Homo sapiens: one gene and its partners. The protein of the gene in region 3 purifies or fractionates together with the protein of the main gene of each other region. This does not show direct contact. Each region holds a gene or a part of one and is shown on either strand. Other genes may lie near its edges.

Region 1 (3,500 bases), about 14 Mb from region 3:
TCTGGTTGGCCAAGATGTTACAGGCAGTAGAATTAGCTGTTATTTTCTGCTTTCTTGGAGCAGGGTTGTTCTGTTGAATTGCTGTAATGGCTTGAATTGGTTGGCCTCCAGCCAGGAGGTGGCACTTTCAAGAGAGTATCAACTGCAGTAGTATAGCGGGGGATATAAGCTTGCCTTACGGTTTCCTGGATAGGTTTTCGGGCTTCTCAGGCAATGAGCAGGGCCCCACGAGTTTTTGTCTTTTGTTTACGGCTACCAGGGCGGTTAGAGAAAGACCATCTGGTGGGGGCAGGGATAGTGTGTCTGAGCTCAGACTCCTTGGGCAGGGCTTGCTGTGGCCTCTGGGCGATGGGAGTGGTGGTTAACAGGCCAATGGAGTTACGTTCTAAGGGAGATTATGGCTGCCTCTGCTGCTTCATACACATCACCAGGGAAATAGGGGAAAGCCGGCAGTGACAGACCACAGCCAGCAAGGCCAGTCTCACTCCTGCAGTGCTTCCCCAACAGCCAACAGAACCAAATTTATATCCATGCCTCCAGTGCACAGGGTGGAGATCTTGCCCTAGACTACAAAACTCCCCGCCGAGAAAGCAAGCAGGGCTGTTAGGCCTTGTCCATCTGCCTGCCACAGCTTCTGTGCTCATATCTGCACTTCCTATTTGTCCCATCCCCCTGCAGATTCTGCCCAGGAAAATTCACGCTCAGTTGAAATCATTACAAAGTTCAGCTGAAAGTCTCCTTCTCCCTATGGTCCTTCCCCAATTCCATTGGCTGCCCTCTCCAAAGACCCCTGTGAGATAGTCAGAAATGGTTTCCCTGGGGACCAGGAGTGCCTACAGGGCTCTTCCTGCTGCTGCTTCTACTTTTATATTTTGTTTGGCTCTCTAAATTCATTTCAGTTCTCCTTCTCCCATGATCTGGATCCTCAGTGAGGATGTGTGCAGAAGTGGACTTTACCCCTCTCACACTGTTTTTTGTTTGTTTGTTTGTTTGTTTGTTTGTTTTGAAACGGAGTCTCGCTGTCAGGCAGGCTGGAGTGCAGTGCATGCGATCTTGGCTCACTGCAACTTCCACCTCCCAGGTTCAAGCAACTCTTCTGCCTCAGCCTCCTGAGTAGCTGGGACTACAGGTGCACACCACCATGCCTGGCTAATTTTTGTATTTTTAGTAGAGACAGGGTTTCACCATGTTGGCCAGGCTAGTGTTGAACTCCTGACCTCAAGTGATCCACCCACCTCGGCCTCCCATAGTGCTGGGATTACAGGCATGAGCCACCACACCCAGCCACCCTCTCACACTTTGGACCTTGAGAGCTTGTTTGGAGGTTCTAGCAGGGGAGCACATTTACTCGTATACCCTTGACTGAAGACCGATTCTCCTCTTATCAGGAATGGTTGTCCTCTTCGACCAAGCACACAGCTTCGGGAGCCCTCTCACACTTTGGGCACTCAATTTTTCTGCTGTCTTGTGGATTTTGCAGCAGCAAGCCACTTCTTTCAAAGGATCTGTTAATTCTTTTGTTTTTTCTGGTATGTTCCTGTGATAGTTCTTGGAGCCAAAGTTCACTATGTGAGTCTCCACATGCTGTTCTGTCTGTCTGAGTGGCAAATTAGTCCTGCCTCCTATCTGCCACTTTCCCCTTAAATCAGTCTCATTTTTGTAAAGAAAAAAGTTGAGATGTATAGTATGTATCACATGCACAAATATAGAAAGTATGCTAAACATGGTTTACGTAAGTGCTTTAAATTTTTTCTCTTTATGTTTTTCGGTATTTTGTCGATTTTTACAAGTATATATTTTATAATGGGATAGTTGGGAGGTTGGTGACTTGGAAAAGAGAAAGGAAAATGATAAAAGGGTGTGGTTGGAATCAAGTGATGTATACCTACTTACTGGCAAATTGACCCTTAGATGATTAGGTTAGCTATGATTTTTCTTGATGAGAATTTAGGGACTTTGTATGGCTTTCACTTCTGATCTTCATGATCCTCTCCTCTTTTTCAGTAACAGTAACGAGTAGCCAGAGTACTCCTGCCAAAGCCCCCAGGGCAAAGTGCAATCCATCCAATTCTTCCCCGTCATCCGCAGCTTGTGCCCCAAGCTGTGCTGGAGACCTCCCTCTTCCTTCAAATACTCCTACGTTCTCTATTAAAACCTCTCCTGCCAAGGCCCGGTCTCCCATCAACAGAAGAGGCTCTGTCTCCTCCGTCTCTCCCAAGCCACCTTCATCTTTCAAGATGTCGATTAGAAACTGGGTGACCCGAACACCTTCCTCATCACCACCCATCACTCCACCTGCTTCGGAGACCAAGATCATGTCTCCGAGAAAAGCCCTTATTCCTGTGAGCCAGAAGTCATCCCAAGCAGAGGCTTGCTCTGAGTCTAGAAATAGAGTAAAGAGGAGGCTAGACTCAAGCTGTCTGGAGAGTGTGAAACAAAAGTGTGTGAAGAGTTGTAACTGTGTGACTGAGCTTGATGGCCAAGTTGAAAATCTTCATTTGGATCTGTGCTGCCTTGCTGGTAACCAGGAAGACCTTAGTAAGGACTCTCTAGGTCCTACCAAATCAAGCAAAATTGAAGGAGCTGGTACCAGTATCTCAGAGCCTCCGTCTCCTATCAGTCCGTATGCTTCAGAAAGCTGTGGAACGCTACCTCTTCCTTTGAGACCTTGTGGAGAAGGGTCTGAAATGGTAGGCAAAGAGAATAGTTCCCCAGAGAATAAAAACTGGTTGTTGGCCATGGCAGCCAAACGGAAGGCTGAGAATCCATCTCCACGAAGTCCGTCATCCCAGACACCCAATTCCAGGAGACAGAGCGGAAAGAAATTGCCAAGCCCGGTAAGTCAGCAGTGGTGGGAAGATACATTTCCTAACTTAAAAGGGGCCAGACACCCAGATGTCTCAAGTCAGGATGCTTTTTTTTTTTTTTAAAGAAAGAAATCTATTTATTCCTAGTGCTGCCAAATTCAGCACATAAATACAAAACAAATTTTGCATGGGCCATATTTTTAGTAAAAATGTTTTATGCTAAGAAACTATTTTTGTTTGTCTGAAATTCAAATGTAACTGAATGTGCTGTATTTTATCTGGCAACTCTACTTACTCCCATTAAAATCCCTCCTGTCAGGGTCCATACTCCTCAGCCCTGTTGCCTGATTGACCAAAGCCTTCATCATGCTCCAGGATATCAATTCAAAAATATCTCCCCTCTCCTGTTAGACAGTATGCCATCCTCTTTTTATAGATAAAGCTGTTGTTCATGGGAAAGTTGCCAACATCCATAAGTAGATTTCCAGTTTGTAATTCCATTTTGTGATTATTTAAAATACAGTGAAACTTAGATACTTACAAAACAATTTGAGTGCAAAATCTTTCTAGATTTTTATGACTTCTCCACAATCTTTTATAATCATTTTGCCACACCACAGTAATACTTTTGACACCTATATCTATTCTTTTTAACATTCAGTGTAGTGTCACTTATCTTTTTAGGACTCATTT
Region 2 (3,368 bases), on a different chromosome or scaffold from region 3:
TTTCAGAAAAGTTAACCCCTGCGTTGCTTCGACCCCTTCTCTCCGGGGAGGGTTGGGTAAATGTCTCCGAATCGCCTTGAGAGAGAACTAAAGAAGGTTTGTTTCTAGGGTTTTGTGTCGGTAGAAGGTGAGAAGAGTTCTCCGCTAAGATAAGCAAAGAAGAAACACCCTCCTCCCCAGGTTTTGAACATCGTTTTTCCTGTTTATCAGATCTGCTCTGTCTCCTCCAAGCCTCGGCTTATTGTTCCTGCTTCTCCACAACCCTTCTGGTCTGAGGGGGCAGGCCAGATCCCACTGCCTAGAAGACCCAGAAGAGGAGGAGCTGGCAGGAGGGACTGAGCCCAAGCTTCCCCTTCTGACTCTGTGGCTAGACTAGGAGCTTCTTGGAAGGCGGCGACGAGGGTGGCTGCCCAAAACATTCTGCCTGGTTCTAGTATGCAGCTGCTCACCCTTGGCAGGGGAAGGGGCACTGGGGAAAGGGACTAGCCCTCTCCTCACTTGGTGATATGGAGTGAAGGAGTGAGGGGTATCCCTCAGCCTAGGTGGCTTTATTTGTCTGATCCCTATCCTGCCTGCAACCCTCACTCCAGTACCCTCTACAATCCCAAAAGACTTAAGAATAGCCTGGGCTATAGGATTTTCAGGAATCAGGGATGTCCCAGTAAATCTGGGCACAAGGAAGAAATCATTCTTCTTCCAGTTGTGGGCTTTGAACCCTCCTGATAGTTGAGGCAGTCAGAGACCACTGGGAAGAAATGCATCCTCACTCCTCTTCTAAGTCTCTGTAGGAGCTGCCAGTTCTTTTTAAAATTAATTCTTTCCCAAGACTTGGTTTTTGCTTTAGTTTGATAGGGAGAGAAGGTCGTTTGCGTTCTCTTGGGGACTCAGCAGGCTGCTTCCAGCCATCAGCCAGCATCCCCTCTCCCTTCTGTCTGTATCTCAGCATCGCTACAATTCCCTCCCACACCCCGTGTTTGTATCATCAGCTTTGCCGCCTTACAAATTTAGGTGTGTCAGAGAATGTATGTCTCTGGCTCTTTCATCCAAGGAAAATAAGCATTGAGCCCAGGCTGGGAGACAGGGCCACAGTGCATTCCCAACATTCTAATATACATACACAGGCCAAGTAGTGAAGGGTGACAACCTTCACACCTGGGGACAAGAAGGGGCCAGGGCATGGAACAAAGTCAGATGTCAGGCCAGGCTGACCCTCCTCTGCCTTGTCCTTCCTTTGGGCTCCTTTTTCTGGCCAAGTTCTGCCCACTGAAGATGGTACAAGACACTAGGGAAGGTGGCAGGGGACTGAGCTTGGATCACCAAGGGTGGGAACTTATTTGGTTGCAACGTGGTCTCCAAGGCTCTCTAAACTCAGGGCAACTTCTTGGCTGTACCTTAATGGCAAAATAGCCATCCCTAGATGGCCTCCAATTACTTCCTAACCTGACTCTGTGGGAGTGTTTGATAAGCATTTAAGAAAACAAATTTAAACCCCCTGATAATGAAGAAGGATAAATATTCCATATCTAGGTATGGCTGGGCTTGCTTCTAGAGAGGACTAGGGGCCATTTGAACAGGGGGAGAAAAGTGGGAGAGAGTACCTGCATGCACCTCCCTGCCTACTGCTGAGGCTGAGCCCTGGGCCTCAGCCTTCCCTGCCTCCTCCCTGCCCACAATGTCTCCATCCTAGCACTAAATAGTGTGGTTTTCTCAGTGAAGTCTGAACAAAATAAGATCTGGTGAGGAAGGGAGCATTTCCCTGTGTCAGAAGCAGGGAAATAATTGCCTTATCTTTAGAGTCACAGCCCCCAAATTAACCTCACCTCTGCAGGTTGCTTGTCTGGAGATGGAGCCACTACAGGCGGGCCTGGGCGCCTGGAGTCGGGCATGAAAGAAAATAGCGCCTCATCGCTCTTATCTAAGCCCAGAGGTATTTATGAGCGTTTATTCGTCTGATCCGTTTGTTTGGGAAAAAGAGCAGGCGGGCAGGGCAGGCCAGAGACCGACTCCTTTCTGGAGCCAGATCCCTACGAATCTGTCTGTGGTTCGGTCCACCGCCCTCTGTCTGTCTCCTTGGGGGAATATGTAAATACACAGCGGGCTCAGCCATCCGCCAGTCTGGGGTGTCTCTCCCTGCCTCAATGAGGAAGTGTGTGTTCAGAGAGATGGATAGAAGTGTGTACCAATTCTTGAGTACATAACAGAGGGATTGTACAGATACCCCACAGGCAGGATTTATAATTGTAATTTTCTATGCTGTGAGTCTGCAGTCCTGTGGGCAAGCTAACACATTCCAGCTCCCAGGAAAATGTTTCCTAAGTTGTGTTCAGTTCGGGAGTAAAATTCTTGATAGGTAACCTCAGGAGGGATATTTGCGTGTGTGTGTGTGTGTGTGTGTGTGTGTGGTGTGGTGTGGTGTGTGTGGGAGGGTGCTGAGACATTGTCCAGGCTTCCAATTTCCTCTAAGCTATAAAGCCCTCTCCCTCAGCTCTTTGAGGTGATGAGCACCTTCTCCCACCACCCCCAACTTTGGCTGGGGTGGGGTGGGATGAAAATATTTCAACTCAATTCTCGTCCTGGACTCTGTTTCTCTGGGTTTGGGGAACATAAATAAATGTTCCCAGGGGTACTGAGTGATCACTCCCATAGGTTGAGGGAGGCTGTTTAGATGAGACACTTTGCCCTAAAATCGGCCCCTCCAAATCAAAGTACAAAGACTTCATTTTCATTATGCAAAGGAGCGGCATCCTCTTTGATCTTTAGGGGAGTGAGCAGTAGTGCTGAACCCACTCTCCCGGTTTCCTACCCGCAGGTCCAGGGGACAACCTGAGGGCCCTGAAGTGTTTCAATACCATGTACCAGCTTGACTTCTCTACATGTCCTTTGGATTGCCCAAAAGCAAAATCTCAGAGGGGCCAAGGACCTTCTAGGGCTGGCTCCCTCAGGGCCTCCTATAGAGCAGCTCCTTGAGTCGGGCCTTATAGCCACCAGAAAGTCACCTCGCCGCAGGAAAGCTATAAAGAGCTGCTCCAGAGGCGCCGAAAGAGGGTGAGGGCTGCAGCCACAGTGTTTGTCCCCAGCACCACCAGGCCCCTTAACCTCGTCAGCTCCTCTAGCCCTCGGCCAGACTCTGGCAACACCTTGGTTTGCCTGGCACCGCAGGCAATTTCCTGGAACCCCACCCCCACCCAGGAACGGGGACCACAGCACCTTTAAAGGAACTGCCAGAGCTTCCTCCTACGGCTTGAAAGCCCAAGCTAATCAGTAACCCGTGAGACAGGGGCCAATATTCAAACGCTGCAGCAGAGGCGCATAGCCTAGCCCTGGCCACCCCCTCTTGGGAAGGAGGTCGAGTTAAGCCGGTGTGGAGG
Region 3 (3,500 bases):
AAGGTCAGGAGTTGAGACCAGCCTGACCAACATGGAGAAACCCCATCTCTACTAAAAATACAAAATGAGCCAGGTGTGGTGGCACATGTCTGTAATCCCAGTTACTTGGGAGGCTGAGGTAGGAGAATTGCTTGAACCCAGGAGATGGTGGATGCAGTGAGCCGAGATTGTGTCATTGCACTCCAGCCTGGGCAATGAGAGCGAAACTCCATCTCAAAAAAAAAAAAAAAAAGGGAAAAAGAAAAAGAAAACTAATTTGTTGCCAGGAGACACAAAAAATGCTATAGAAAGTTCTTCCGTCTTAAGGGAAAGGCTATTAGATCTTTAAGAAGAAATGAAGAATATTAGAAATGGTAAATATGTGAATAAATACAAAAGATTTTATTTTTTCCTCTTAATTTCTTTAAAATACATATCATTATTTAAAGCAGAAATTGTAACTTATGACAGGACTTACAATATTTAAATATGTAGATTTAATATGTATGACAACTACAGCATAAAAGACAGGTATGATAAATGGATGTACATACTTACAAGATTTCTACATTTTATGTGAAGTGGCACATCAACTCTAGGTAGACTGAAAAATTAAGAATGTATATTGTAATCACTAGAACATCCAACTTAAAAAAATTATTAAAACAGTATAGCTAAAGAGCCAATAAATTAAAATACAATTATAAAATAATCTTATCTAAACAGGAAACATGTAAATTAGAAACCTATTAATAATTACATTTAATGTTAAACTTATTAAAAGATACAGAGAGAACAGATAAAAATGCAAGTCTCAAGTATATGTTGTTTAAAGAAACTACTTTAAATAGGCACAGAAGCACAAAGTAAATTAATAGAAAGAGGTATACTGTGCAAACACTAAGCTTAAGAAGGCTGCAGTGGCTATATTCACATAAGATAAAGTAGATTTCAAACCCAAATTACCAGAGACAGAGGGAAATTTCATAATGATAAAATGGTCAATACATTAGGAAGACATAAGTTATTAGAGCTTCATACAAAAACTGGTAGAATTTAAGAAATAGACAATTCCACAATCATAATTGAAGATTTTAACATCCTTTCTCAGCACCTGATAGAAATAAACAAAAGGATCAGTAAAGACATAGAAGATCTGAACAATACTATCAACCACTTAATCTCATCGATATTACAAAACATATTAACCCAACAATTCAAATTACATATTGTTTTTCTTAGAGACATGGTCTCACTATACATTGCCCAGGCTGGTCTCGAAATGATCCTCCCACCTCAGCCTCTCAAATTACAGATTACAGCTGTAATCTCAGCATGTAATCTCATGCTGGATTACAGGCATGAGCCACCACACCTGGCCTAAAATACGCATTCTTTTAAACTGTGTATGGTACACTCACCATGACAGACAACATATTGGGTCATAAAACGAGTCTCAATAAAACTAAGAGGATTGAAATCATAAAGAGGATATTTTCTGACCTCAATGGAATTAAAGTAGAAATCAGCAACAAGAAGATATTAAGAGGAAAAAAAACAAATGTTTGCTGATCAGACAACCCACTTCTGATAATCCATGGGTCAAAGAAGAACTGAGGGAGGAAATTAGAAAATAATCAGAGGCTGGGCATGGTGGCTCACACCTGTAATCCCAGCACTTTGGGAGGCCAAAGTGGGTGGATCACCTGAGGTCAGGAGTTCGAGACCAGCCTGGCCAATGTGGTGAAACCCCATCTCTACTAAAAATACAAAAATCAGCCAGGTATGGTGGCTGGAGCCTGTAATCCCAGCTACTGAGGAGGCTGAGGCAGGAGAATCGCTTGAACCCAGGAGGCAGAGGTTGCAGTGAGCTGAGATCGTACCATTGCACTCTAGCCTGGGCAACAAAAGCGAAATTCCATCTCAAAAAGAAAAAAAAAAGAAAATTAGAACTGAATAATAAAAATACGACATAATAAAATTGTAAAGTCGCAACTAAAGTAATGCTTAAAAGAAAATGTATAGCTTTAAATATGTATTTTAAATAACGTCTAAGATCAATGACCTAAGGCTTATCTTAAGGAACTAAAGAAAAAAGATCAAAGGAGACTCAAGCTAAATAGAAGAAAGAAAATAACAGAAATTAATTATATAAACAATTGAGAAAAATAAAACCAAAGGTTGGTTCTTTAAAAGTTATATCGTCGGCCAGGCACGGTGGCTCACGCCTGTAATCCCAGCACTCTGGGAGGCTGAGGCGGGTGGACCACGAGGTAAAGAGATCGAGACCATCCTGGCTAACACAGTGAAACCCAGTCTCCACTAAAAATATAAAAAATTAGCCGGGCGTGGTGGTGGGAGCCTGTAGTCCCAGCTACTGGGGAGGCTGAGGCAGGAGAATGGCATGAACCCGGAAGGCAGAGCTTGCAGTAAGCCGAGATCGCGCCACTGCACTCCAGCCTGGGAGACAGTGTAAGACTGTCTCAAAAAAAATAAAATAAAATAAAAAGTCAGATCAGTAAAACTGATAAACCCCTACCCAACCTGATTAGGAAAGTGAGAACAGAAATTACCAGTATCATAATGAAAAGGAAATTATCAACACAGCTCCTAAAGACATTAAAAGGGTAAGAAGGGACCATTATAAATAACCTTATGTCTACAAATTTGATAACCTGGGTCAAAAGGATAGATTTCTTGGATAGATTCATTACCTAAATGACACCAAGATCAAACCAAAAAATGTGAATAGCCCTATATTTATTAAATACACTATAGAAAACCAGACAAAGAAAATTTAAGGCCCAGATGGTTTCAGACATTAATTCTACAGCCCTGACAAGGAAAAAGGGGATAGTTAGAATTGGGTTACTAAAAAGTTAGCTTTTAATATCAACAGGAATACTGGTCAAGAGTCCACATTATGCAGGTTGTAAATGGTAGACACTATAAACAAATAGGAATCAGCTCTGATGATACTCATTTTTTCTTCCCTTTCAAAGGCTTGGCAAATAAAGCCGGGTCAATTTGCTCCTTTGCCAGTCCTCTGACAGAGAAGAGTCTTGCTGCCCGCTCCTGCAGAGTGCCCCCACATTTCAGTCCAAGGGCCATCAGTTCACATTTGAGCTTCTCCAAACCCAGCAACTCCAGTTCTGCAACAGAGGTGAACGCCAATAAATCTATAGTTTCCTTATCAATAACCTGAGGGAAAAAAATAAGAAAATATTTAAAACAGGCTCCTTCCTCTGAATAAAGACTCTTTAACTGTCAACTACATTTCTTGAGAAATTTTCATTTAATTTGCCATACCTTGCAACTGAATTTTAATCATCATCCATCCACATGTTATTCCATAAGTATTCTCAACACACATAATAACTAATTTTTCATCTATACATTTAGAAACAAGCATTCAGAACAGTAACAGAAGTATAGCATTCCCAAACAGATTTTTAATATTGCTTTCTTTTCCGATTTTTCTAGTAAACATCTAAACAGTAAAATATAGCCAGCCTATCCCC

The links. The genes of interacting proteins can lie anywhere in the genome.
Region 1: the proteins of SDE2 (region 3) and DTL purify together in Homo sapiens (affinity purification with western blotting, with the first as the bait; one study listed by BioGRID). This does not show direct contact.
Region 2: the proteins of SDE2 (region 3) and HOXB6 purify together in Homo sapiens (affinity purification with mass spectrometry; one large-scale study listed by BioGRID and IntAct). This does not show direct contact.

What each region holds. Positions count from the first base shown.
Region 1 is NC_000001.11:212,098,248-212,101,747, forward strand, and holds part of DTL (denticleless protein homolog), read left to right. Parts: intron 1-2,004; coding exon 2,005-2,837; intron 2,838-3,500. UniProt on the Homo sapiens protein: Substrate-specific adapter of a DCX (DDB1-CUL4-X-box) E3 ubiquitin-protein ligase complex required for cell cycle control, DNA damage response and translesion DNA synthesis.
Region 2 is NC_000017.11:48,598,619-48,601,986, forward strand, and holds part of HOXB6 (homeobox protein Hox-B6), read right to left. Parts: intron 3,046-3,368; exon of another isoform or gene 2,810-3,045; intron 1,928-2,809; exon of another isoform or gene 1,829-1,927; intron 1-1,828. UniProt on the Homo sapiens protein: Sequence-specific transcription factor which is part of a developmental regulatory system that provides cells with specific positional identities on the anterior-posterior axis.
Region 3 is NC_000001.11:225,982,344-225,985,843, forward strand, and holds the end of SDE2 (splicing regulator SDE2), read right to left. Parts: intron 3,181-3,500; coding exon 2,959-3,180; 3' UTR 359-2,958; downstream 1-358. UniProt on the Homo sapiens protein: Inhibits translesion DNA synthesis by preventing monoubiquitination of PCNA, this is necessary to counteract damage due to ultraviolet light-induced replication stress.